7 linked regions of the Homo sapiens genome follow. The protein of the gene in region 5 purifies or fractionates together with the protein of the main gene of each other region. This does not show direct contact. Each region holds a gene or a part of one and is shown on either strand. Other genes may lie near its edges.

What was found.
Region 1: the proteins of PHF8 (region 5) and INCENP purify together in Homo sapiens (affinity purification with mass spectrometry; one large-scale study listed by BioGRID and IntAct). This does not show direct contact.
Region 2: the proteins of PHF8 (region 5) and IL37 purify together in Homo sapiens (affinity purification with mass spectrometry; one large-scale study listed by BioGRID and IntAct). This does not show direct contact.
Region 3: the proteins of PHF8 (region 5) and EVPL purify together in Homo sapiens (affinity purification with mass spectrometry; one large-scale study listed by BioGRID and IntAct). This does not show direct contact.
Region 4: the proteins of PHF8 (region 5) and CGAS purify together in Homo sapiens (affinity purification with mass spectrometry; one large-scale study listed by BioGRID and IntAct). This does not show direct contact.
Region 6: the proteins of PHF8 (region 5) and SETD1A purify together in Homo sapiens (co-immunoprecipitation; one study listed by IntAct). This does not show direct contact.
Region 7: the proteins of PHF8 (region 5) and ANAPC7 purify together in Homo sapiens (affinity purification with mass spectrometry, with the first as the bait; one study listed by BioGRID). This does not show direct contact.

The regions. Positions count from the first base shown.
Region 1 is NC_000011.10:62,130,511-62,134,010, reverse strand, and holds part of INCENP (inner centromere protein), read right to left. Parts: coding exon 3,421-3,500; intron 1-3,420. UniProt on the Homo sapiens protein: Component of the chromosomal passenger complex (CPC), a complex that acts as a key regulator of mitosis.
Region 2 is NC_000002.12:112,909,862-112,913,964, reverse strand, and holds the start of IL37 (interleukin-37), read right to left. Parts: upstream 2,801-4,103; 5' UTR 2,717-2,800; intron 1,003-2,716; 5' UTR 953-1,002; coding exon 871-952; intron 174-870; coding exon 111-173; intron 1-110. UniProt on the Homo sapiens protein: Immune regulatory cytokine that acts as a suppressor of innate inflammatory and immune responses involved in curbing excessive inflammation.
Region 3 is NC_000017.11:76,010,307-76,013,806, forward strand, and holds part of EVPL (envoplakin), read right to left. Parts: intron 1,784-3,500; coding exon 1,700-1,783; intron 1,577-1,699; coding exon 1,466-1,576; intron 1,363-1,465; coding exon 1,270-1,362; intron 238-1,269; coding exon 1-237. UniProt on the Homo sapiens protein: Component of the cornified envelope of keratinocytes. May link the cornified envelope to desmosomes and intermediate filaments.
Region 4 is NC_000006.12:73,425,755-73,428,297, reverse strand, and holds part of CGAS (cyclic GMP-AMP synthase), read left to right. Parts: intron 1-2,543. UniProt on the Homo sapiens protein: Nucleotidyltransferase that catalyzes the formation of cyclic GMP-AMP (2',3'-cGAMP) from ATP and GTP and plays a key role in innate immunity.
Region 5 is NC_000023.11:53,992,474-53,995,973, forward strand, and holds part of PHF8 (histone lysine demethylase PHF8), read right to left. Parts: intron 3,310-3,500; coding exon 3,220-3,309; intron 1,431-3,219; coding exon 1,128-1,430; intron 367-1,127; coding exon 263-366; intron 1-262. UniProt on the Homo sapiens protein: Histone lysine demethylase with selectivity for the di- and monomethyl states that plays a key role cell cycle progression, rDNA transcription and brain development.
Region 6 is NC_000016.10:30,974,754-30,978,253, reverse strand, and holds part of SETD1A (histone-lysine N-methyltransferase SETD1A), read right to left. Parts: intron 1-3,500. UniProt on the Homo sapiens protein: Histone methyltransferase that catalyzes methyl group transfer from S-adenosyl-L-methionine to the epsilon-amino group of 'Lys-4' of histone H3 (H3K4) via a non-processive mechanism.
Region 7 is NC_000012.12:110,386,709-110,390,208, forward strand, and holds part of ANAPC7 (anaphase-promoting complex subunit 7), read right to left. Parts: intron 1,916-3,500; coding exon 1,804-1,915; intron 1,185-1,803; coding exon 1,031-1,184; intron 1-1,030. UniProt on the Homo sapiens protein: Component of the anaphase promoting complex/cyclosome (APC/C), a cell cycle-regulated E3 ubiquitin ligase that controls progression through mitosis and the G1 phase of the cell cycle.

The sequences.
Region 1 (3,500 bases), on a different chromosome or scaffold from region 5:
TTGGGGAACAGAGAGAAGGTAGCTGAGCTGGCGCATCCTGAGCCATGGGGGCTTGGTCAGAGTTCAGGCTGGGAGGTGGCCAGCGGGAGGTTGGGGTGCACAGGGTCTCAGGAAAAGAGGGAAGACAGCAGGCCAGGCACAGAGAAGGGAAGCCAGGACCCTTCCTGGGTATAGCAGCCAGGTTTGGGGAGGTGGTGGGAGCAGCTGCAGCGCCGGGCTGACAGTCATGGGTGGTGATGACCCCCATTTAAGGGGTTTATACCCAGAAGATACATCCTCCTCATCTCCCCATGCTGTGTCATCCCAGCTCACGTGCTCCCTGATGAAGACGCCCATGTGACTACATGGCTCTCCCACCAGCACAAGCATTCTCTGGAATGCTAAGTGCCATCTGCACGACATTCAGGCCTCAGAGCTGGTCTGGTGGTAGGGAAGTGGCCTAAGCACTGGCAGAGGGATGGAAGGACTGTTCTCCAATGCAGAGGTGGCTCGAACGCCCCAAGGTGGAGTCCTGAGGCAGTGGGCCTGTCCCTTCCTATCCACTTCAGAACTGCTGCCCGATGGGCCCCGCAGGCACGTGCGCACCAGGCCAGGAGGCAGGGGATTCCTGCTGACACACAGCAGTTCCACGCCCCGGGGCCACACTCTGGCTTCCAGAAGCCCCCTCCACCCACGCTGACTGCTGGCTTTTTTTCCTATCTCATTTTTCCATTCCTCTGGTGCAGGTGTTTCCTTCCCATCCCGAATTTAATTTTTGGGAAATTAAATTTGTTAATTTCCCAAAAATTAACAAATTGAACTCAAATCCTTGTGTCAAGGGCTGCTCGTGGGGAACACCCAAACCAAGACCCCACCTTGGAGCTGCCCGAGAGCCTCTCCCAGAGCCTGGTATCAGGAAGACCCCCAGGAAGCCTCCTCCCCTGTCACCGCCCCACTCCCTGACACCCTTGCAGCTCCTCACTAGGGGTCGGCCTTGTCGCACCCAAACTGAGCATCAGCCATTGGTGAGTTTTCTCAAATAAGATGTACTGAGTATCCACTACACTCAAGCACTAAGATGAGTTATCTATTCACATTCAAAGCAAGTGTTATCACCATTTCACAGAAAAGCTGAGGTTGAGAGAAGGGGTGTGCCCAAGGTCACCCAGGGTCTGTGTGACTCCAGATCCTAGATCCTGTATCCTCCTCTCTCTCCTCCACCCCCTCAAGAGGAGAGATGATGCTGGGCTGGGAGTCAGACAGACCCAGGTAACATGCACCAGTCAAATCAGAAGCCCATTCATGGGCAGGGAAAGGGTAGACAGAGAGGGAAGAGTGATGGAAGGGCATGAGAGCTGCAGATCTGGATGTCTGCTCCAAAGGTCTCCAGAGATTCTCTGCAACCCTGCCTGGCCCTCCCTCTACAGGCCCAGGCTCACCTGCCCCCGCTTGAAGCCCCTTCCCAAGATCAGATCCAGGCCTGAGAAAATCTCCAAAACAGATCAGAACCATTTAGATCCTTCTGAGAATCCAGAAATAGACAGTGTGGCAGACTGCACATCTGCACACGCCCCAGAGTATGTCACCCCAAACCCTGGAGCAGGCCCGTCCCCAGGCAGTGTGACTCAGGCAGAGAGAAAGCTGCCAAGGTGAGGTGCCCTCCCCTGCCTGACAGGCCCTGCCCTGCGGCCTTGCACAAAGCCTCTTCTGCAAGCACCTGACTTTCTGGACAGAATGAAACACACAGCGCTCAAGCCCCAGCTTCCCGATTTACAGACTCCATGGCCTCCTTAAGCCTCAGTTTCCTCCTCTGTAAAGTGAAAAATTCCTCACAAGCTAACAATGCTGCTGTAAGGACCAAATGAAATAACCTTTCATTTTATAAATCTTAAAGTGCCAGGCAGATGCCAGCTACTATTTAACATGCGTTGAGATAAAACCTGGGCTGGGCGCAGTAGCTCACACTTGTAATCCCGGCACTTTGGGAGGCTAAGGCGGGTGAATCACTTGAGGTCAGGAGTTCGAAACCAGCCTGGCCAACATGGTGAAACCCCATCTCTACTAAAAAACAAAAACACAAAAATTAGCCTGGTGTGATGGCGGGCGCTTGTAATCCCTGCTACTCGGGAGACTGAGGCAGGAGAATTGCTTGAACCTGAGATGCATGCAGAGGTTGCAGTGAGCCGAGATCGTGCCATTGCACTCCAGCCTGGGCAACAGAGCGAGACTCTGTATCAAAAAAAAAAAAAGATAAATCCTGGCCTATCCTCGCCACCAATCCGCTGCTTTGCCCGTCCTCTGCCTGCATCCTTACAGCAGCCTCCTATCTGGTCTCCCTGTTTCCCTCACTTTCCCATCATCAAGCCACTTCTTTTGCTTCAGTGGGGTCAAGTTCAAGCTCTTGTGTGAGCATGAGCCCCAGACACCCATCACTTGTTGCTTTAGGCATCAGGGTCTTCGTACAAGCTGTTCCCTCTGCCAATAACACATATCCCCGCATTTTTTTTCCACTCAGCAAAAGCGCAGCCATCCTTCAGAACCCTCCCAGCTCAGATTCACCTCCTCATGCAGCCAGCCTGCCCCTCCAGACACCTGCTCCAGTGGGCAATGGCCCCCTAAGCTGAGATCTGAGAGAGCAGCTAACATTACCGAGTCCTTCCTATATGCCAGGCACCCTTCTAAACTCCCTGTGTGGGGTGACCAAAGAAAACCTCACAACGACCCTTTGAAGTGACGCGATTAGCCCCAGTTGACAGGCAAGGAGTGGAGGCCCGTGAAGTTTCCAGGACCTGCCCCAGGCTGCAGGGTGGGTGAATGGCTGAGTTGGCACTCAGACCCAGGCCGGCCAGCTCCAGAGTCAGCTTGGTTCCCCCTCCTGGCTCCCATCAGATGCCCAGTCATCTGATCTCCCCGAAGGAGCCTGCTGCCATAATTCCCTCCTCCAGATCAAACACAGTGTCGCCAATAGGCGGCGCGCAAACCCGGTGAATTTAAGTGGCCTCTGCAGCATAGGGTTGGGAGGAATGAGCTGGCCCTGCGGAAGAGGCCCAGGCTCCAGCCTCAACATGGCCAGTAACCACAGCCACACAGTGGCCGACCTTCCCGAAGCTCAGTTTCCTCACTTGTAAAGCAAGTAGGTTGGGTCAGACCTGCACCATCCAACGTGGAAGCCACTAGCTACATGTAACTATTTAAATCTAAAAGAAGTAGAATGCAATACAATTTAAAATTCAGTTCCTCAATCACACTAGCCACATTTTGAGGACACAATCGCCAGATGAGGCCAGCTAGCGGCCACCATCCCAGGACAGCACAGATGTGTAACATCTACCTCACTGCAGAAAGCTCTCTGGACAGCTCCTTGCTAGATGATCCCTCAGAAAGCCTCCATCTGAGCCTGGCACCAAGGACCACCCGCCACTGCCAAGCCCCCAGACTCACAGATGATGCGGCCAGAGGCAGCTGGCTCTTCGGCAGTCTTCTTGGCAAGCCTTCTGCTCGCCCTGCGGACAACACTTTCC
Region 2 (4,103 bases), on a different chromosome or scaffold from region 5:
GGTGTCCCCATTCTACAATTCTCCCACCCTGTAAGAGGACCCAATGGCTCCATCCCCCATCCCCACCCTCGCACCTCAGCCACCCCCATCACCTCACCCCGAGGCCTTACTTGTGTGAACAAAATTCATGGTGGGGAGGCTTGGGCCTGGTTCCAGGGGGCTTCCAGCCGGGTCTGCAGTCAGACGCAGTGAGGTTAGCATATGCAATTCGGATTTTCCAAGGATTTAGGGGTATCAAAGACCATTTAATTCCCTCTTCTGTGTATGTGCTGAGAAATACTAGAGCAGCATGATAGTAATGACATTAAATCATAGCTTCCCTCTTCAGAAACATAGAATAGAGATGAACTGGATCACGGGTTTGGCCTCTGGCATGTCACAGGCCTCTCCCGTCACACCTCAGTAGACAATCATTTGGGTCAAAAGCCTCCTCCTATTGTCCCCCATGGGCAACACCCAAATGTGTTCCTCATGGAATACTCAGATGCCCTGTGCCTGGGTCATTTGTTCAGCCCAGCCTTAGAGAGCTGCTTCTCATCGGAGGCTTCTCTTCCACTTGGGAATGTTGGGAGGGAAGAGGTGCATTTTGAAGCATATGCAACCATCCAGTTGGCAAACAGGATGCTAAAGCCCCAAATCTGTAGGTGAGGACGATCCTTTTATCTACTACCTGATGTGCCTGGACACTGAAGCAAAGCTTCCTTTTCCCTTCCAGAATTTCTCTTGTCTAGTTATTTGTCCAGGGAAATTTGAAAGCTCACTTACTGTGCAAGTCAGCAGGAAACAACTGGGTCTGTGCACAGCACCTAGCAAAGTTCTGCTCTAGGAATTACACTTTGGCCCTGAGGTAGATTTCTACAAGAACCTTACCTTCTAAGCAGCACTGGGGTTCATCTTTTTCCCAGTCCTCAGAGCCCATTTTCACTCCTGAGTTCTCCCCCACAAAGGACATTTTCAACGTTGAGTTTATTACTCAACAGAAAATGGAATGAAGTCCAAGACCTAAGGAGATAGAAAGGGGACCAGTTATGGCATCTTCTCACCCCAGGACACCTTGCTGCATGTCTCTAGTGCTGAACAGACCACTGGCCTTGCTCTGTAGTTTGAAATGCTCGCTGCAACCAGAAAGGCACCAAGGGGCCAGACCATGCTCTCCTGTCTATCACGCCTTCAAAGCAGAATTTCCCAAACCTTGAGTCACAGTGCTAACACACGGGGTGCAATAGCATTTTTGTGGATCTTGGCATTTTACAAAAATAAAATAAAAAAGTTAAAAGTGCATTGCTCTAGTCTTGGGGCTGGCACACTATGGCCTTTGGCCAAATCCGGTCCCTGACTGTTTTTTTAAATAAAGTTTTATTGAAACACAGCCATGCTCTTGTTTACATATTGTCTCTGGCTGCTTCGAGGCTACAATAGCATGGTTAACTAGTTGAGAGATCATCTGGCAAGCAAAGCCTAAAATACTTACCATCTGACACCTTCTATAGAAGTTTGCTGAGTCTCTGCAGTAGCCTAATCTTTGCCTAACAAAAAGCAGTTGCTCTGCAACCTCTTTTCATGAAAACCTAAGCCACCAAATGTCCCAGGAGGCTCAATCCCTAATATCTTAGGGTAGGATTGACTCACGTGACTTGCTTCATTGGGAGGGGTTGGAGGAGATATATTTATATATATAAATTCTGCACACCCTATCTCAGTTGACCGAGAGCTTTCAACATCAGCCCAGGCCAACATAGGACAGAAGTGGAGCAAAAATTGGTATTCCCATCTTACCGATAAAAAATCAAAAGTTAAGTGATTTGTTCAGAATCATATCACTTCTAAGATTGCAGAGATAGGCAGTTTGTGTACAAATCCAATCCTTTGAGAAAGGTTTAGGAGTGAGACAAAGGGAACTAAATTGTTCATGCAAAAAATAAAAATGACAAGGAAGGGCTTCAGGACTCAACAATAAGGACGGTGAGCAGGAGCAGGTGGGTAGAGCTGATGGGTCTTTAGGAACAGGGATATCTGCTATTTGATTTTAACCTGTTTGTGGTTTGGCAGTATCCCTGAATACATGAAGCACAACTGCCTTTGTCATGTTGGGGTAAATCAAAGGACACAAAAAATTGGAGGCGCTTGACAGAGAATTTGGCAGCCAGAACATCAGAGCAAGAGATGTCTGGCAGAAACGTAGGTATCCAAAGACATATAAAGATACTGTGGTGCTGCTGAAGGACAGAAGGATGCTCACAGGCTGGAGGACCTGGGGCCATCCCTCGGGGGTACTCATGAAATCTGCTGCCTGTATTAAGATAAATGCAGGGAGCTTTCACAGAATTCCCTAAAGAAGCAGTGCATCTGGCCATCTGAAGTCCATCTCTTTGCACTCAAAATCTGTTCCCAAGGACCAATATTTTCTAGACTCTAAAGTCAGTCTTCTGAGCCTTCAGAGAAGGGACTAGCATTTCCAGGGTTGGTGGATTTCCTAAGCTAGTGTCTGCCTGGCCCTCCAGCAATGCCCTACTTGTTAGTGGAAGCCCTCCTGGGAGAGAGCAGGCTGCTACTGGGGCTGAGAGCAAGGTGTTCTGGGCAGGTCTCAGAGATCATATTTAGAAATTCAGATGTGCTTCCAGTGGGGATAAAAAGCAAGGGTCTAGATGGCCAGATGCTACTCTACTTCCCCATCCATCCTGTTGGCCTTGAAAGCCAGTGCAGGAGGACCACCTACCTGGGCCAGGGATCCTCGTGGTCTGTGGCTCTGTCTTGGACTCCTGGAGCTCTGTTTGCCTTCAGTTCTCAGGATCCTTTACTTGAAGGAGCTAGGTCTGGTACTCATTTGTAATCAACAGTTTGTGAGTGGTTATGCAAATACAACACAAGTATTCCTTTGGCCAATAATAAATAGCATCCTCAGTTATCAGTGATCACTCATTTCCTGCTATTTTCCATGCCAACGGTATAAACAAATTCCTGTGGGGGTAGTGCCACTCTGCTAAGGACTGTGCCACACCTATTCAACACATTTCAAGGTACTTGTGATAGATCAGGTGGCTTCCAGTCCAGTCCAATAATACAGGTATAGAAAACAGAGGAGAGTGAAGGAAAGAGGGGACACAGGGTTTAGATCAGCCAATGAGCCTGGGAGGTTCAAGGAAGCCCTTGTTCTCATGATGGTTCTTTGCCCCAATTCCAGAGTTCATGCAAGTGGAGTCCCCATGTCCCAGAGAAAAATGTCCTCTTTTCATGTTCCCTTCCAGGTACACTCCGGGATGCACTATACCTCTTCTATGTCCCCTCTTCTTCAAAGGTGACATGCAAAAGGACCTTCCTTGATCAAGCCCTCCAAGGACTAGCTTCCTTCTACAGCCCATTAGCTATTTATCTGCACTTCCTTGCATTTTTCCATCACATTTGCCCTTGTCAGTTACTGTGTATGGCTATGTTTTACAACACCACACACAGCTGCTCAGTATGAGGGGAAATCCACATAACCAATTAAGGTAATAGCTTCTGGACCACCACCAGCAGCATGTCAATAACACAGGAACAACAGGCCAGCACAATAGTCAACCACTGTGCTCTCACTGTGCCAGGTCTGGGCTCAGCCCATTTATTTATTTTTCTCCAACCAAATCCTTTGATGACCCTGGGGGTAAATACCATCCTTCCTGTTTTACAGACAAAAGGTGGTGCAGTTTAGAGAGGATGGACAATTTACCCAAGATCACATCCTTAATTACTGGAAGAACTATAACCCAGGCCTTTCTGAGCATGCTGCAGCCTCATCTCTTAAACTTCACCGAAGACTGTGGTCTCATCCTCTAGCCTTTCTTCACATACGCATTTATATAACATACAAATATAGGAGTGTGTCTGACAAATTATTTTGTAAGATACATTTCCTACTTAATGTATCTTGCCTTTTCTACTCAATATGATATCTCAAACATCGTTCCATTTCATCAATACTTTTCTACAATAGTGTATCTAATTACTGCAAGGTATTCCATTATTTGTCTAAAGACCTGGAAAAATGTTATTCCCTTGATGGCTAGAATACAAATCCCTGATTTCTGTTAAATTCCATAAGGAGACACATATCTTTAGAGAACTTC
Region 3 (3,500 bases), on a different chromosome or scaffold from region 5:
GGGGTCCCGGTAGAACTCTACCACTTCCTTCTCCTCCAGCCTCTCCAAGGGCCGCTGGGTCCTCAGCTGCAGCAGTTGGCTCCTCTGCGCCTCCAGCTCATGCTGCACCCGGGCCACCCGCTTCCTCTCCTCTTCCAGCTGGGCCTTCAGGGCCTCTGACTCTCTCCCTGCTTGGGCAGGGCTCTCGGAGCCCTGCTTTGCATCATGGGTCCTTCGGATGTCCTCACTGAGCTCCTTCTGCAGAGAGGAAGAAGGGTAGAGCACGGGGTGGGCGGTAGAGATAGGAGCTCCATGTTTTTCCTGAGATGAAAGACCCCTCCCTGTTTCCTGAGACTCCCCAGTGGGTCCTCAGAGGTGGAGCTGAAGACCTAAGATGCTTGGATATAGGATTTTGAGAAGACCCAGTCAATGCAATGATTTTAGGACCCAAGGCAGTGCGCAGGCCTGGTTTGCATTAGAAAGTGCAAGTAAGGGCCAGGTGCAATGGCTGATGCCTTTAATCCCAACACTTTGGGAGGCCAAGGTGGGCGGATCACCTGAGGTCAGGAGTTCGAGACCAGCCTGATCAACATAGTGAAACCCCATCTCTACTAAAAATCCAAAAAATTAGCTGGGCGTGGTGACGCATGCCTGTAATCCCAGTTACTCAGGAGGCCGAGGCAGGAGAATCGCTTGAACCAGGGAGGCGGAGGTTGCAGTGAGCTGAGATTGTGCCACTGCACTCCAGCCTTGGTGATAGAGCGAGACTCCGTCTCAAAAAAAACAAAAAACAAAAAAAAAGTGCAAACAGGACAGGTTCTCCCTGTCCCTCCAGAACCTCTCCCTTTTCCCCTTCCATCCAGGGACCCTGACTGTGGCCGAGGGTAACAGAAAAGCTGGCAAGTCACCAGGAGTCCTGGAGAAGTTCTGGCTTGAGGGTGTGTAGGCCGAAGGTGGAGAGCCAGGTGGCTGAGGGTGAAGCTCTAGGGGATTTTCTCTGCTCTCTGGGGTTAGAGGTCTTGTCCCATTGGAGGATGCCCAGTGGCCATGAATGCCATCTCCAGGGCCTAACCCTGGGATGGACACCAGCCTGTAAGAGCTGCTGGAGAGAAAACTGGGTGGCTGGAATCCGCTCCCCTCTCCAGCAGCCAGAGCTGCCCAGGGGCTGCAGGCAGGAGGGAGAGGAGGGAAGGAGACTACCAGGGTGACAGCCTGGCATTTTGGGAATGGAGTGGGCATTCCTGGTTATTCCTGGCTATTGTGGGAAAGCTGTAGGTGTTGTCTGTGTACCTTCTCCAGCATTTTTCTAGCAAACTCCAGCTGCTGGAGCAGCTGCTGCTGTGCTGCTGCAACCTCAGTATAGGCCTTTGCAAGGTTCTTCTCCTGGAGAAGGCAGAGGGAGAGGGGAAGGGCAGAGTCAGCTCCTGCCTTGGACCCTACAGAGCTGGTGTCAAGGTCCACTGAGCCCCGCAAGGTCCCATCTCACCTGGGCTTGGATGCTCTCTTGCAGGGGAGCCACTCGGGGTCTCTTGGGGGCTGACACTGCCAGGGTGGGCTCCAAAGAGCAGCGGTAGGTGTCTGCCTGGAGCTCATAGTCCTGAGCAGGGAGGAAAGGACAGCAGGCTGGCAACCAGTGGGGGAGGCTGGGTGTGGGGGATAGGGCTGGAAGAGGGACAAGGGTGATGCATGGAGAGGGGCAAGCTGAAGGCAAGCTGCTTACCTGGAGCGCTGCCTGCAGGGCCTGGGAGAGGTGGGATGCTGTGGCCCTGTCCCGCTCTCGGCTCTGGATCTCCTGCGTCAGCCTCTGCCAGGGAAGAACCCAGAGTCAGGAGGCCAGGAAATGCCAATCACCCTGACTCTCCTCTAGCCAGTGCCTCCAGGGCCACAGTCAGGCAGAGCTGCCTCCCAGGGACAAGAAAGGGCAGGGAGGGAGACCTGGGCCAAACTCCCTCCTTTCCCTGACATCATTCTCTCTGCTTTTCCTCCTTCCTCTCCGAGGCACCTTGGCAGAATCCCTTTCTTTCCTTTTTTTTTTTTTTGAGACCAAGTCTCACTCTGTCACCCAGGTTGGAGTGCGTGATCTCGGCTCACAGCAGCCTCCTGGGTTCAAGCGATTTTCATGCCTCAGCTTCCTGAGTAGCTGGAATGACAGGTGCCTGCCACCATGCCAGGCTAATTTTTATATTTTTAGTAGAGATGGGGTTTCGCCATGTTGGCAAGGCTGGTCTCGAACTCCTGACCTCAGGTGATCCGCCAGCCTCGGCCTCCCAAAGTGCTGGGATTACAGGCATGAGCCACCTTTCTTTGGCCTTGTGCCCCTCAGAGTTCCGTTCTAGCACAGTAGTATCTGCGAGCATCACCTGGGGCCTGTGGGAGGCAGGCAGGCATGCAGGGCCCACCTGCACATCAGATCCAGCAGGTCCGGGTGGCCCTGAGAATTCATATTTCTTTCTTTTCTTTTTTTTTTTTTTTTTTTTGAGACGGAGTCTTGCTCTGTCGCCCAGGCTGGAGTGCAGTGGCGCTATCCGGACTCACTGCAAGCTCCGCCTCCTGGATTCACACCATTCTCCTGCCTCAGCCTCTCGAGTAGCCGGGACTACAGGTGCCCAGCACCGTGCCCGGCTAATTTTTTGTATTTTTAGTAGAGATGGGGTTTCACCGTGTTAGCCAGGATGGTCTCGATCTCCTGACCTTGTGATCCGCCCGCCTTGGCCTCCCAAAGTGCTGGGATTACAGGCGTGAGCCACCGCGCCCGGCCTGAGAATTCATATTTCTGATAAGTCCCCAGGTGATGCTGCTACAGCTCATCCAGAACCATGGCTCCAATTGGAAAGTTCTCAATACGGGATGCCCACTTTTATTCACCTGGGAACTTAATATACTGATGCTCTGACCACAATAATCCAACTTATTTGGTCTGGGGAGGGGTCCTGGCCTGGGGATGTTTTAAAAGCTCTCTGGGAGATTCTAGTTTGCAGCCAGGGCTGAGAATCTCTGTCCCAGGCCCCCTTCCCAATGTCACCTCCCTACTCTCTCCCCAGATATTCTCATTTTCCGGCAGTCCCAGACCCATCTTTGCTCTCACGAGCTCCTAGGGGAACCCCCAGCCCCAGTTCCCTCCCATATGCCTACGTCCACCTCCCCGCTGCCCTCGGCTGTCCTGGCCACCTCATTTCAGCATGACCCAGCCGGCCCCATTCCTCTCCCCAAATATGCTCTGTTTCCTGTGTTCCCGCCTCAAGTGGAGGTGCCCCCTCTTCCCAGTTGTCCCCAACAGAACCCTGGGCATCACCGGGCCCCGTCCATCTCACTCACTGTCCCCTTCAAGCAGTCACCAAGTCCACCTAATTCTGCCATCTCCATCTCAGATCTGCCCACCTCGCCCTGTGCCATGGTCCCTTCCCCGGCCAGGCCACCACTCTCTCTCCGCTGGATTTCCACCCTGGCTCCTCGTGGGCCTCCGTGTCTTCATTCCCACCCTCTTAGTCATTCTCTACATGGCAGCCAGAGCCAGCTTCTAA
Region 4 (2,543 bases), on a different chromosome or scaffold from region 5:
AGTTGGGTTGTGTTGACGGCTAGGGATTGATTGGCCAAACTGAAAACAACACTAAGTGAGTAATTTTTTTTTTTGAGACAGACTTTCACTCTGTCACCCAGACTGGAGTGCAGTGGCACAATTACGGCTCACCACAGCCTCGATCTCCTGGGCTCAAGCAATCATCCTACCTCAGCCCCCCAAGTAGCTGAGATTACAGGTGCATGCCACCATGCTCGGCTAATTTAAAAAAAAATTTTGTAGAGGGCCTGTTGGCTCACACCTGTAATCCCAGCCTAGCAACATGGTGAGACCCCACCTCCATAAAAAATTTAAAAATTAGCCAGGCATGGTGACTGGTGCCTGTGGTCCCAGCTACTTGGAAGGCTGAGGTAGGAGAATGGCTCGAGCCCAGAAAATCAAGGCTGCAGTGAGCCATGATCGTGCCACTGCACTGCAACCTGGGTGACATAGTGACACCCTGTCTCAAAAAAAATTTTTTTTATTGGTAGAGATGGTGGTCTCCCTTTGTTGCCCAGGCAGGCTGGTCACCAACTCCTGGGTTCAAGTAAACTTCCCGCCTTGGCCTCCCAAAGTCTTGGAAGTACGGGGATGAGACACTGCACCCCACCATTTTTTTTTGTGATGGCATACACACCATAAAGAACTAAGATTGAAAAGGAATTGTTCATTTGAGTTTCTAAAGTTGGCCAGTATTGGCCAGGCATGGTGGCTCAAGGCCTGCAATCCCAGCACTTTGGGAGGCCAGGGCAGGTGGATCACCTGAGGTCAGGAATTCGAGACCAGCCTGGCCTACGTGGCGAAACCCCGTCTCTACTAAAAATACAAAAATTAGCTGGGCGCAGTGGCACGTGCCTGTAATCCCCGCTACTCAGGAGGCTGAGGCAAGAGAATCACCTGAACCCGGGAGACAGAGGTTGCAATAAGCTGAGATCATGCCACTGCACTCCAGCCTGGGCAACAGAGCAAGACTCCATCTTAAATAAATAAATAAATAAATAAATAAATAAATAAATAAAGTAAGTTGGCCAGTATAAAGATCACAAAAGTTAAAAAGTCAAAACAAAAATGCCCAACATGCAGGCACAGAGGTTCTTTAAGATCTCATATGCAGGCTTTGAAGTAAGCATTAAGAAAACTATATTGTTGGCCAGGCACAGTGGCTCACGCCTGTAATCCCAGCACTTTGGGAGGCCGAGGCAGGTAGATCACCTGAGGTCAGGAGTTCGAGACCAGCCTGGCCAACGTTATGAAACCCCGTCTCTACAAAAATGCAAAAATTAGCCGGGCGAGGTGGCATGCACCTGTAATCCCAGCTACTTAGGAGGTTGAGGCAGGAGAATCGCTTGAACCCAGTAGGCAGAGGTTGCGGTGAGCTGAGATCACACCACTGCACTCCAGCCTGGGCAACAGAGCGAGACTCCATCTCAAAAAAAAAGGAAAAAGAAAAAAAAAAAGAAATATTGTTGATAAGGCTAAATAGTTTCATAAATAGTACATTTTGTCAACTACTAAATAACTAGATGAGATGGCAGATTATCTATGGTACTCTTAATAATGTAAATAATTCTGTGATACAATCAGTGGATTTTAGAAAAGAAAAAATTTATATTAAATTTGCAGTTCAATAAAGTAAAATAATTTTATAACAAAACAAGATTTTGGATCGCTTGAGGGGGGTGAGGGGAGGGTCAGAGGTTGCAGTGAGCCGAGATTGTATCACTGCATCCCAGCCTGGGTGACAGAGTGAGACCCTGTCTCAAAAAAAAAAAAAATAGTATAAATATCTGTTAGCTTTATACAGTTGAAGAAATTCATAGAATATATTTAAGCTAAGAATGGGAAAGAGAGGGAAAAAATGTGTTTTTGAAACTTCAAACCATATATTTGAAAACATAATCAGATTTTAGTGTGACTGTTGTATTTATTTTATTTTATTTTATTTTATCATTTCATTTCATTTCATTTATTTCATTTTATTTTATTATTTTATTTTATTTTATTTTATTTTATTTTGAGATGGAGTCTCACTTGTTGCCCAGGCTGGAGTGCAGTGGCATGATCTTGGCTCACTGCAACCTCTGCCTCCTGGGTTCAAGTGATTCTCCTGCCTCAGCCTCCCGAGTAGCTGGGATTATAGGTGCACGCCACCACACCTGGCTAATTTTTGTATTTTTAGTAGAGATGGGGTTTCAGCATACTGGCCAGGCTGATCTCGAACTCTTGACCTCGTGATCCGCCTGCCTAGGCCTCCCAAAGTGCTGGGATTACAGGCATGAGCCACCGCGCCCGGCTTTTTTGTTTTTGTTTTTGTTTTCTGTGTGTGACAGAGTTTCGTTCTTGTTGCCCAGGCTGGAGTGCAATGACGCGATCTTGGCTCACTGCAACCTCCGCCTCCTGGCTTCAAGCGATTCTCGTGCCTCAGCCTGCAGAGTAGCTGGGATTACAGGCGTGCGCCACCACGCCCAGCTAATTTTGTATTTTTAGTAGAGACGGGGTTTCACCATATTAGTCAGGCTGGACTCAAACTCTTGATCTTAGGT
Region 5 (3,500 bases):
ATGACTTGCTGAAGTTTCTAGAACTGATAAAATCTTTCTCAGGCTTGCCAATTCGATTTCAGACCTCTCACTCTACCCACCTCCAACACCACACCATGGTTCTCTGAACTAAGCAACAATACATTATAATATCTAGGTATTGCCCTAAGTACAGTCCCTCCTACCCATGTCCCAACCCCTAGATTCCAATTCCATGCCCTGTCTCAGTGGCATATTACCACTGACAGTCCCAGTACCTCTGTGCTCCTCCTTCCCACCTCACCTGCCGTTAGACATCAATAGGGCCAATGGGCTCTCATTTCCATCAAGGTCCAAGTCTGGTGAGTCGTCATCTGAGTCATTCAAGCAGGCACCAGTGATGTTGAACTGTAGAAGTAGGAGACTCAGCCGTTACCTGTCTGGGACTCCCATGGGAATCACGATGGCAAGTTCCCTCTGGTTTCACTGGTTCAGTTCACTGTCAAAACCACCTGAGCCAAGGCCTTCTGCTATACTGTCCCCCCATACCCCCACTGATCACAGGAGCAGGAGGTTGAAAATGTGTGGTTGGTTCAGGGGACACCTGTCAATCTTGTGAACCATGTTCCCTTAAAAAAGAGGGGGCACATCTTCAGATGCCCATGGAGAGAATCACAATCTTGAGGCAAGATGGAGCCCTGGTGGAGGGCTTTTCTCAAGGACCTGCTCAAGACTACAACCTGACACACGCAATGTTTTCAAATCTCATTCCCGTCCCAGCATTTCAAAATTCAGCTAAGTGTTATGTTTTCTGAAAAGAGCTCCTGAAAATCTTCCCTACCCAGACAGAATCAACCCTCCTCTGTATCTCAGGGTCCCACACACACCCCTGATTGTGGCATTCACAATACTTGATTGCACTCATTTGTTTTTATGCCTGTCTTTCTCACTCGCCTGTCAGCCTCTTGAGAGTCACATCCACAGCACCTATCACAGTGCCCGGCATAGAAAAGGTCTCAATAAATGCCTATTAAATGAGTGGGACTGGTAGCCAAACAGCAGGGGGTCTAAGGGACATGGCAGCCAGACAGGATAGCCTGCTTTTTGAAACCCTGCTCTTCCAAGGGACACCCAAAAGGGTTGGGCTGAACCCATGGGCCAGCACCCACCTTTGCTTTCTGGAAAGAGCCTGTCTTCAGTGCCTGATGACTGTATGTGTCCATGAGATTATAGCTCAACTGGCCAGCAGGCCCCAAGGCTGAACTCTCCTTGCCCTTTCGCTCTGCCTTCTTGAAGAGTTCCTTGGGCTTCAGGCCTTTCTTCTTTGAACCATTTTTGGAGGGCAGTGACAGCCTGGACATGGACACTGAAGTGGAATGGGCTGGCCTGGTTAGGGGAATGGAGCCGGCTGGGAAGATCCTCTGCAGCCCAAAGATATTGCTCGTCTTCCCAACGTTCTGTTGGAAGATGTCCTACAAGAGTGTTAGTACATGAGGGGGTTAGAGCTTACTCAAGGGTTCTCTCAACACTAACAGCAGAGGTCTGTTCCTGGTACTGGTGGTACTGCCATGGAAGTGGCTTATAGATGCTCCACATATGCACACCCTAGCTTTTACATAATGAGTCATCAAGAATTTATTGGGTGGCATTTCTTTACCCAGCCATTGACAAGTAAGAAGACGAGCAAAGCACTACTGTCAAAACTGGAGAGAAAATACTCCATTAAGTAGCTGACATGAGACAGAAAATAATCAAGTACTAATCTGTGTGGTTCAAATTCTAAGGACTACAGGATTTGAGAGAAGGAGAGGTTCTAGTCCTAATTCTGCTGCTAGCTAGCTCTGTAACTAGCTCAGGAAAGTTATCTGACCATTTGAGACTGTTTGCTTAGCTGTAAAATTAAAGGACTAGACTGGAAAGGTGATTTTTGAAGATGTTCTGTGGCTCCTTTGAGCTTCTTGGGAGGAGCCCCGAGAATCGGGGGAAGGTAGAAGGCGAATGAGAAGAACAAGTGGAGCCCTGGGCCTCCCACCTTCATCTTATTCAAAGCAGTTATGCTTTGAATATTGGGCTTCCACCTAAGATGTCATTTTAAAAAAAGGATTCCATTGCTTTAAAACATTTGAAAGCCCATGGACCACATATAATCTATCTCTAAGTCCTCTTCCAACCAGCCCAAAGTTTTGTGGTTTAAGTGAGAGGCGCTGGAGAAAAGGTAAGCCTTTAACTATCCTGAATGATTTTGACAGATGGGACTGGAGGAAAATGAGAGGTAGGAGGTGGACACTGTAAGCTATGGTGTAGGCAGTGAAACATGCTGCAAGCATTGAGGCTAGAAGCACAACTTCCCAGCTCACTTTGACCACCCTTCAGCATGGATGTATATATCCTGGGCACTAAATAAAACTTTACAGCTTCTGAGCTTAAAGGAATTCTCCTCTGGTGCCTCTGCTACTTCACCATCCCACACCAACTTCTCTCTTTGCTATTAAAGTCTACTAATAACAATGGCTCACATTTATTGAGTACTTACTCTGCCAGGCACTGTGCGAGGGGCTCTACATATATTAGCTTTTGATCCTAACAAAATCCTGAAAGGTTGATGTTATCCTCACTTTACAGATGAGGAAACTGAGGCTCTGAAAGGCTTGCAAGTGACAGAGCAGGAACCAGAACCCAGGTTTCTCTGAATCTCTTACCACTATACCTTACTGCCTCGTGGTATATGCCACCTGTTGAAACATGGCTTTGTAATCATCTTCACCCCGAGAGAACTGTCATTTTGCAGAATGCAGAGACTGAGTCAAAATATTAATAATAACAACAACTACAACTACCACCACCACCCACCACCACGACCCACCGTCAGAATTTACTGTGCACCTACTGTGTGCCAAGCACTCTATTTTTGTGCTCAACCCACATTACCTTATTTAATCCTTTTAACAATCCTCGAGTAGGTACAATTATCCCCATTTTAGAGATGAGGAAACTGAAACTCAAAGAGGTTAACTTTGCTCAGGGTCCTCTATTAGGCTGAGTTCTTTGTGGGCAGGCACTATTTACGTATTTTAAGAGCCTAGCCCAATGTGCGGCACACTTGAAACACAGTAATAATTATTTGAACGAATGAATTGGGTCTTTGGTAGGGTCTTCCCGACCCTTCCCCTGGGCTCTCATGCTAACTGCAGAGGCCTAACCTGCCACTTGAGCCTCAAGGCCTTTCCAAATGCCTTTTCTTCCCTGCCCCATGCTCCTTACTTCCACCAGGCGGATCTCCCTGGCCAGATCTTTAATGAGCTGTACGGTTCGCACTGTCTCCGGGATCTCATCCTCATGGTCTGGCAGAGCCTGTCAAACAAGAGGCATGAGGAATAAACCCACACATAAAGAGACAACTGATTTTGGACAAATATGCCAAGGCAATTCAATGGAGAAAGAGTAGTCTTTTCAACAAATGATTCTGGACCAATTGGATATCCACATGCAAAAAAAAAAACAAAAACAAACAAACCTCAATCCCTATCTTGCACCATACACAC
Region 6 (3,500 bases), on a different chromosome or scaffold from region 5:
TCGCCAGGTGGGAGTGCAGTGGCGCAATCTCGGCTTACTGCAACCTCCGCCTCCCGGGTTCAAGCGATTCTCCTGCCTCAGCCTCCCGAGTAGCTGGGACTACAGGCATGCACCACCACACCCAGCTAAGTTTTGTATTTTTAGTAGAAGCAGGGTTTCACCATGTTGGCCAGGATGGTCTCGATCTCTTGACCTCGTGATCTGCCCGCCTCGGCCTCCCAAAGTGCTGGGGTTACAGGCGTGAGCCACTGTACCCAGCAGAGGGTCCTATCTTACAGACAGGAAAACTGAGGCACAGAGATGTGGTCAGTTACCAGATGACAGAACAAGCTCTGCTCCCAGGCCATGTGGGTTGAGCTCATGCTCTGAACTGCAGCCCACGGACTCACTGGCTTCACAACTGGCTTCCCCGCTCAGCGCCAACAGGGCCGCCGGCACCAGGCCCGGCCCTAGGAGGCAGCGATTCACCTGAGTCCACCGCACTCCCAACCCTGGCGCCCTGAGCCAGGCTCTTGGCTGCACCTTAGGCTCTAGACACCCGCTGGGGTCTCAGCCTGTGGCAGCAACCCACTCCAGGAAGCCAGTGAGGACCCAGATGCATGCAGGCCTCCTCTCACCTTCCTCCCCACCACGCTGGGGCAGCGCCCCCTACAGACCACCTCACGCTTCAGCATGCATGTCCTCGGGAAGCCTCGCTCGAAGAACACACTCCTCCACCAGCACAGCTGCTGCACACACACTTCCCTCTGCGACTGTCCCAAAGGGAACCTGCCCATCCCTCTCATTTAGGAGACAACTTTTGGGGGCACCTGCCCAGTCAATATGACTCCCACCACCTTCCTCTGAGAACTGCTCTACTGCCACGCTCAGGTCCATGGGGCGAGGCCCCAGAAGCCAGTTCCTACTGCATAACCTGCCCCTCCCCAGGGCCATCACTAACATCCCCAGGCGGCAATCACTAAGACGGTGGTGACTGAAACTGGTTCTGGTTATTAGAAACTCGGTGAGCTGGCCGGGCGAGGGGGCTCACGCCTGTAATCCCAGCACTTTGGGAGGCCGAGGCGGGTGGACCATGAGGTCAAGAGATCGAGACCATCCTGACCAACATGGTGAAATCCCGTCTCTACTAAAAATACAAAAATTAGCGGGCGTGATGGCGCGTGCCTTAGTCCCACCTACTCGGGAGGCTGAGGCAGGAGAATCACTTGAACCTGGGAGGCTGAGGATGCAGTAAGTCGAGATGGCACCACTGCATTCCAGCCTGGTGACAAAGCGAGACTCCATCTCAAAAAAAAAAGAGAAGAAACACAGTGAGCCTTCACTAAGCACCCCTTGCTCTGAGCCACGGCTCCTCTGTCCTCGGTAACTCAGACTCCCTTGTCGTGCCCTCTCACTATCCAGACACCAAGGGGCTGCCTGCATCTTCCTCTCCTCTTCCACCTCTGCCACCTCCCCAGGGGACTTGGCAATCACGCCTGTTTACCTGGATTCTTGCATCTCCAGTGATCCCCTTCAATCACCCTCAGCTCCCCTCAAGCAGCCACACACCTGGCCTTGTCAATCCCAGAATGGCTCCGCCTTGGAGATTCCCCATCCTCTCCAACATTCCCCACTGTCCATTCAGTCTGCCCCACTGCACCTTCAACTTCCCATCCTTCAGTTTCCCTCTAGCACATCACCCTCTTCCCAACTTCCTCCTCCACCCTGCCCAGACCCCAGGGCCCGTACTTTGCCCTCTCCTGTCCCAGCACAGCCCCAGGTCCTCATCATTCCACCACACCTTTACCCTGTGGAGCCAGCCAGCAGCCTCTTCTCCCCTCACTCCCAGGCCCCAGCTCTGGCAAGGCCTTCCAGCATGGGGAGGCCCAGGCGAGAGGCTTGCTCTGTCTCCAGGATACAGTGCAGCGGCACAATCACTGTTTACTGCAGCCTCCTCAACCTCCTAGGCTCAAGCAATCCTCCCGACTCAGCCTCCCCAGAAGCTGGGACCACAGGCATGTGCCACTATGCCTGGCTTTTTTTGTTGTTGTTGTTAGCCAGACTGGTCTCGAACTTCTGGGCTCAAGAGATCCTCCTGCCTCGGCCTCCCAAAGTGCTGGGATTACATGTGTGAGCCACCGCGCCTGGACTGGAGCAACTTTTCTCCACTTTCCAAGGTTCTTACTCCACTCTTCCTCTCACAGTCCTACAGCAACAGGGTCAAAAGAGGACTCAGGCACAACACCCCCATCTCCCTGCCTCCCCACCGAAGGGTATAACTGCATCAGATCTGGAAGCTACTCCTCCACCTCCCCAAAAAGGCCATGCCAGCAAGCATTCCTCTCTCCCGGCACATCTACCTGGCCCGTTCCCTTCAGTGGAACATGCCCAAACCTCATCTACTTGGAAAAGCTAACCCCTCCCTCAACCCTGCCCTCTCTTCTTGCTCTCCCTCCAGCTCTGGCTGGTAACCTTAGTTTGTTCCTGCATCTCACTAAGCCTTGAAGCCCTCATCTATAAAATGGGAATCACAGGGAGGTTGTGGGGCAAGCGCAGTGGCTCACACCTGTAATCCCAGTACTTTGGGAGGCCAAAGTGGGCTGATAACTTGAGGTCAGGGGTTTGAGACCAGCCTGGGCAACATGGTGAGACCCTGTCTCAACTAAAAATACGAAAATTAGCCAGGCGTGGCAGTGTGCACCTGTAATCCCAGCTGCTTGGGAAGCTGAGGCAGGAGAATCACATGAACCCGGGAAGCGGAGGTTGCAGTGAGCCGAGATTGCACCACTGCACTCCCGGCTGGGTAACACAATGAGACTCCATCTCAAAAAAAAAAAAAAAAAAAAGGGAGAGGTTGTGGGGATTCAATGAGAAAATGAATTGTCAACATGCTATGCCTAGAGCCTGGCACACATAGGTACTTGACACATGGGAGCTGATATCACAACCCCCAATTCTTTTTTTTGAGACGAAGTCTCGCTCTGTCGCCCAGGCTGGAGTGCAGTGGTACAATTTCGGCTCACCGCAACCTCCACCTCCCAGGTTCAGGTGATTCTCCTGCCTCAGGCTCCTGAGCAGCTGGGATTACAGGCGCCTGCCAGCATGCATGGCTAATTTTTTTTTTTTTTTGGAGACAGTCTCGCTCTGTCACCAGGCTGGAGTGCAGTGGCACGATCTCGGCTCATGGCTACTTCTGCTTCCCCGGTTCAAGCGATTACTCCTGCCTCAGCCTCCCGAGTAGCTGGGATTACAGGCATGTGCCACTATGCCCAGCTAGTTTTTGTATTTTTAGTAGAGATGGGGTTTCACCATGTTGGTGCTGGCCAGGATGGTCTTGATCTCTTGACCTCGTGATCTGCCCGCCTCAGCCCTCCCAAGTGCTGGGATTACAGGCGTGAGCCACCGCACCCAGCCTAATTTTTGTATTTTTAGTTAAGATGGGGTTTCACCATGTTGGCTAGACTGGTCTCGAACTCCTGACGTCAAGTGATCTGCCCACCTCAGCCTCCCAAAGTGCTGGG
Region 7 (3,500 bases), on a different chromosome or scaffold from region 5:
GAACACAACATACGCTACATGGTGTTAAAGGTAATGTCATTCACAAGTGACACCTATTTATTACTCAAGTAAACGACTTTGCATAACACAAGCCCAAGTCTCTTCTTGTCCTTGAACTTTATCTGAATATAAAGAAAATCCCTAGTCCTAAGCAGGCAAGCTAGGTTAGACACTGCAATAAACCAAGCTTCTGGTGAGTGCAAAATGATTTTCTTCCAGGCTGAAGAATGATACACCAAGGCCAGGCATGGTGGCTCACGTCTATAATCCCAGCACTTTGGGAGGCCCACGTGGGAGAATCACTTGAGCCCAGGAATTCAAGACCAGCTTGGGCAACATGGTGAAATCCCATCTCTACAAAAACATACAAAAATTAGCTGGGTGTGGTGGCATGCGCCTGTAGTCCCAGATACTCAGGAGGCTGAGCAGGAGGATGGTTTGAGCCCGGGAGATTGACAGGTCAAGGCTACACTGAGCTGTGACTGCGCCACTGCACTCTAGCCTGGGAGAGAGAGAGAGAGAGAGAGAGACAGAGAGACAGAGAGACAGAGAGAGAGAGAGAGAGAGAGAGAGAGAGACAGAGAGAGAGAGAGAGAGAGAGACAGAGAGACAGAGAGAGAGAGAGAGGCAGAGAGAGAGAGAGACAGAGAGAGAGAGACAGAGAGAGAGAGAGACAGAGAGAGAGAGAGAGAGAGAGAGAGAGAGAGAGAGAGAGAGAGAGAGACCGACCTTGTCTCAAAAAAAAAAAAAAAAATGACACACCAAGGTAGCCTGCTTTGCTTTGCAAGGGTTACTACCTGTGCAGGCACAGAGCTAAACTCAGTCAGATTTCTATTTTTACAGGTCTCCAACAGAGATGATTACATGATTACATTTGGGACCATTCAGTATAAAAGACTAACACATCCCAGAGACTGGCTGCAGCACCAACAGCAAAGCATCTCATTTTTCTTTTTGCTACTTCAGATACATCAGACTTCCAGACAAGCAAAGGGCCTCAAGAACACTGAATTAACTTTGTGGCTCTCACCAGATGGTACTGATTGCTCTTGAGTTGTCACCAGTGTGCACAAAAGCATACGCTTTGATCCACACAGAGAGCCAGTCCAAGTTAGGCACGGTTTGGATCACATTCATTGTCATGGATGCCACCTCTGCCCCTTTTACAGAAAGGGACAACAAGCCTAAACCAACAGAAAGCAGAAGAAAGAAAGTAAGGCACGATATCTCTCTTCCACATGCAAGGAGCAACGGGCTACATCTTCCCTTGGCTAAAAGGCAACTGCTTCCCTATTCTGAGCGATGCATGAGAGAAAAACCATAATTTAGTATTTCTTTTCTTTTTGAGACAGTGTCTTGTTCTGTCCCCCTGGGCTGGAATGCAGTGGCACAATCTCAGCTCACTGCAACCTCTGCCTCCTGGGTTCAAGCGATACTCATGCCCCAGCCTTCCGAGAAGCTGGGACTACAGGCACGCGCCACCATGCCTGGCTAATTTTTGTATTTTTAGTAGAGACGGGGTTGTGCCATGTTGCCCAGGCTGGTCTCGACCTGCTGAGCTCAGGCAATCCACCCACCTCAGCCTCCCAAGGTGCTAGAATTACAGGTGTAAGCCACCATGCCCGGCCAAAAACCATAATTAAGTATTTCTTGATTGAATATGTGACAACAGGAATCCTACTAAATCACTCTCTTCAGGGGAACTTTTAAAAAAAATAAAGTTATTCTAATGTACAGGCAAGATTGAGAACTACTATCTTTGACAGTAAACATGCCATGAAAACAGGCAGGAAATATCTCTACCTAGAATGGCATCAAGGGCTAATGGGCACTGCCTCAGCACCTCCTTATAGCTGGTGACTGAAGGGCGCTCCTGACCAGCCTTCTTGTACAGGTTTGCCAGCATCATGTTTATCTGTACAAACACAAATAACAGATAGCAAAATAAGCGTATATTGCAAAGAAAATCTCTCACCATGAAAAAGTCCTAATTTTCATTACCAGTTATTTACTTTTTACTGGAAAATCTACCCACAACCCTGTGCAAATAAAGGCAGACTGACCCCATTCTTCAAAAGAAAGAAGAAATTGGCCAGGTGCAGTGGCTCACGCCTGTAATCCCAGCACTTTGGGAGGCCGAGGTGGGTGGATCACGAGGTCAGGAGATTGAGACCATCCCGGCTAACACAGTGAAACCCCGTCTCTACTAAAAAATACAAAAAAATTAGCTGGGCGTGGTGGCGGGAGCCTGTAGTCCCAGCTACTCGGGAGGCTGAGGCAGGAGAATGGTGTGAAACCGGGAGGCGGAGCTTGCAGTGAACCGACATCACGCCACTGCACTCCAGCCTGGGCTACAGAGTGAGACTCCATCTTAAAAAAAAAAAAAAAAAAAAAGAAAAGAAAAGAAATTACTACCCTTCCTTTCCCTAGCTCCTGCCTTCCCTAAGAGGAAAGTCACATTACCTTCCCACAAGGCCCAGTAATATCTGAACAAAAGACGCTGCCCTCTGGAAACTGGAATAACATTCATTTAAGAAATGGTAGAGAACGCTAGTTAACTTGATTCTTTCTTGATCTTAAAACAGAAGATGAACTATCTCACATAAGAAAGTGAGAAACTCTTGACATAGCTAGTTAAGAAGGATCAGCTCAGTTTTTCCTAATAAGGAAATGATACAGAAAGACAGATAAAGAAGTATAATACTTGGCTTTTCTTTGACAATTCGACTTGTGGCTAGACTCTAGCCTTTCTAACACTTAAGGCTTTGGCCCGTAGGTACTAACTCACTAAAGTAATGCTACAAAAATCAGCTACACTATTTAAATCCAGTGAGTGCAGACAGCTGCATTTTAGCGTAATTTAAATATGTAACTTTGTAAAGCTAAATTAAAATAATCCTACCTAACATGCAACTGGGAAATGAGAAAATCTAAAAGTTCTGGCCGGGCGCAGTGGCTCATGCCTGTAATCCCAGCACTTTGGGAGGCCGAGGTGGGTGGATTACGAGGTCAGGAGATTGAGACCATCCCGGCTAACACAGTGAAACCCCGTCTCTACTAAAAAATACAAAAAATTAGCTGGGCGTGGTGGCGGGCGCCTGTAGTCCCAGCTACTCAGGAGGCTGAGGAAGGAGAATGACGTGAACCCGGAAGGCAGAGCTTGCAGTGAGCCGAGATCGTGCCACTGCACTCCAGACTGGGAGACAGAGCGAGACTCCGTCTCAAAAAACAACAAAAAAAACCCACAAAAACAAAAAAAAAGCCAGAAAATCTAAAAGTTCCTAAGAATGTAGAAGTTATAGGCAAGTGATAAAAGACCTTCCTAATAGTACACAGATAAACACAATATTCCAATTTAAAATTAGATTTTTTTTTTTGAGACGGAGTTTCACGCTTGTCACCCAGGCTAGAGTGCGATGGCACGATCTCAGCTCACTGCAACCTCTGCCTCCTGGGTTCAAGTGATTCTCCTGCCTCAGCCTCCTGAGTAGCTGGGATTA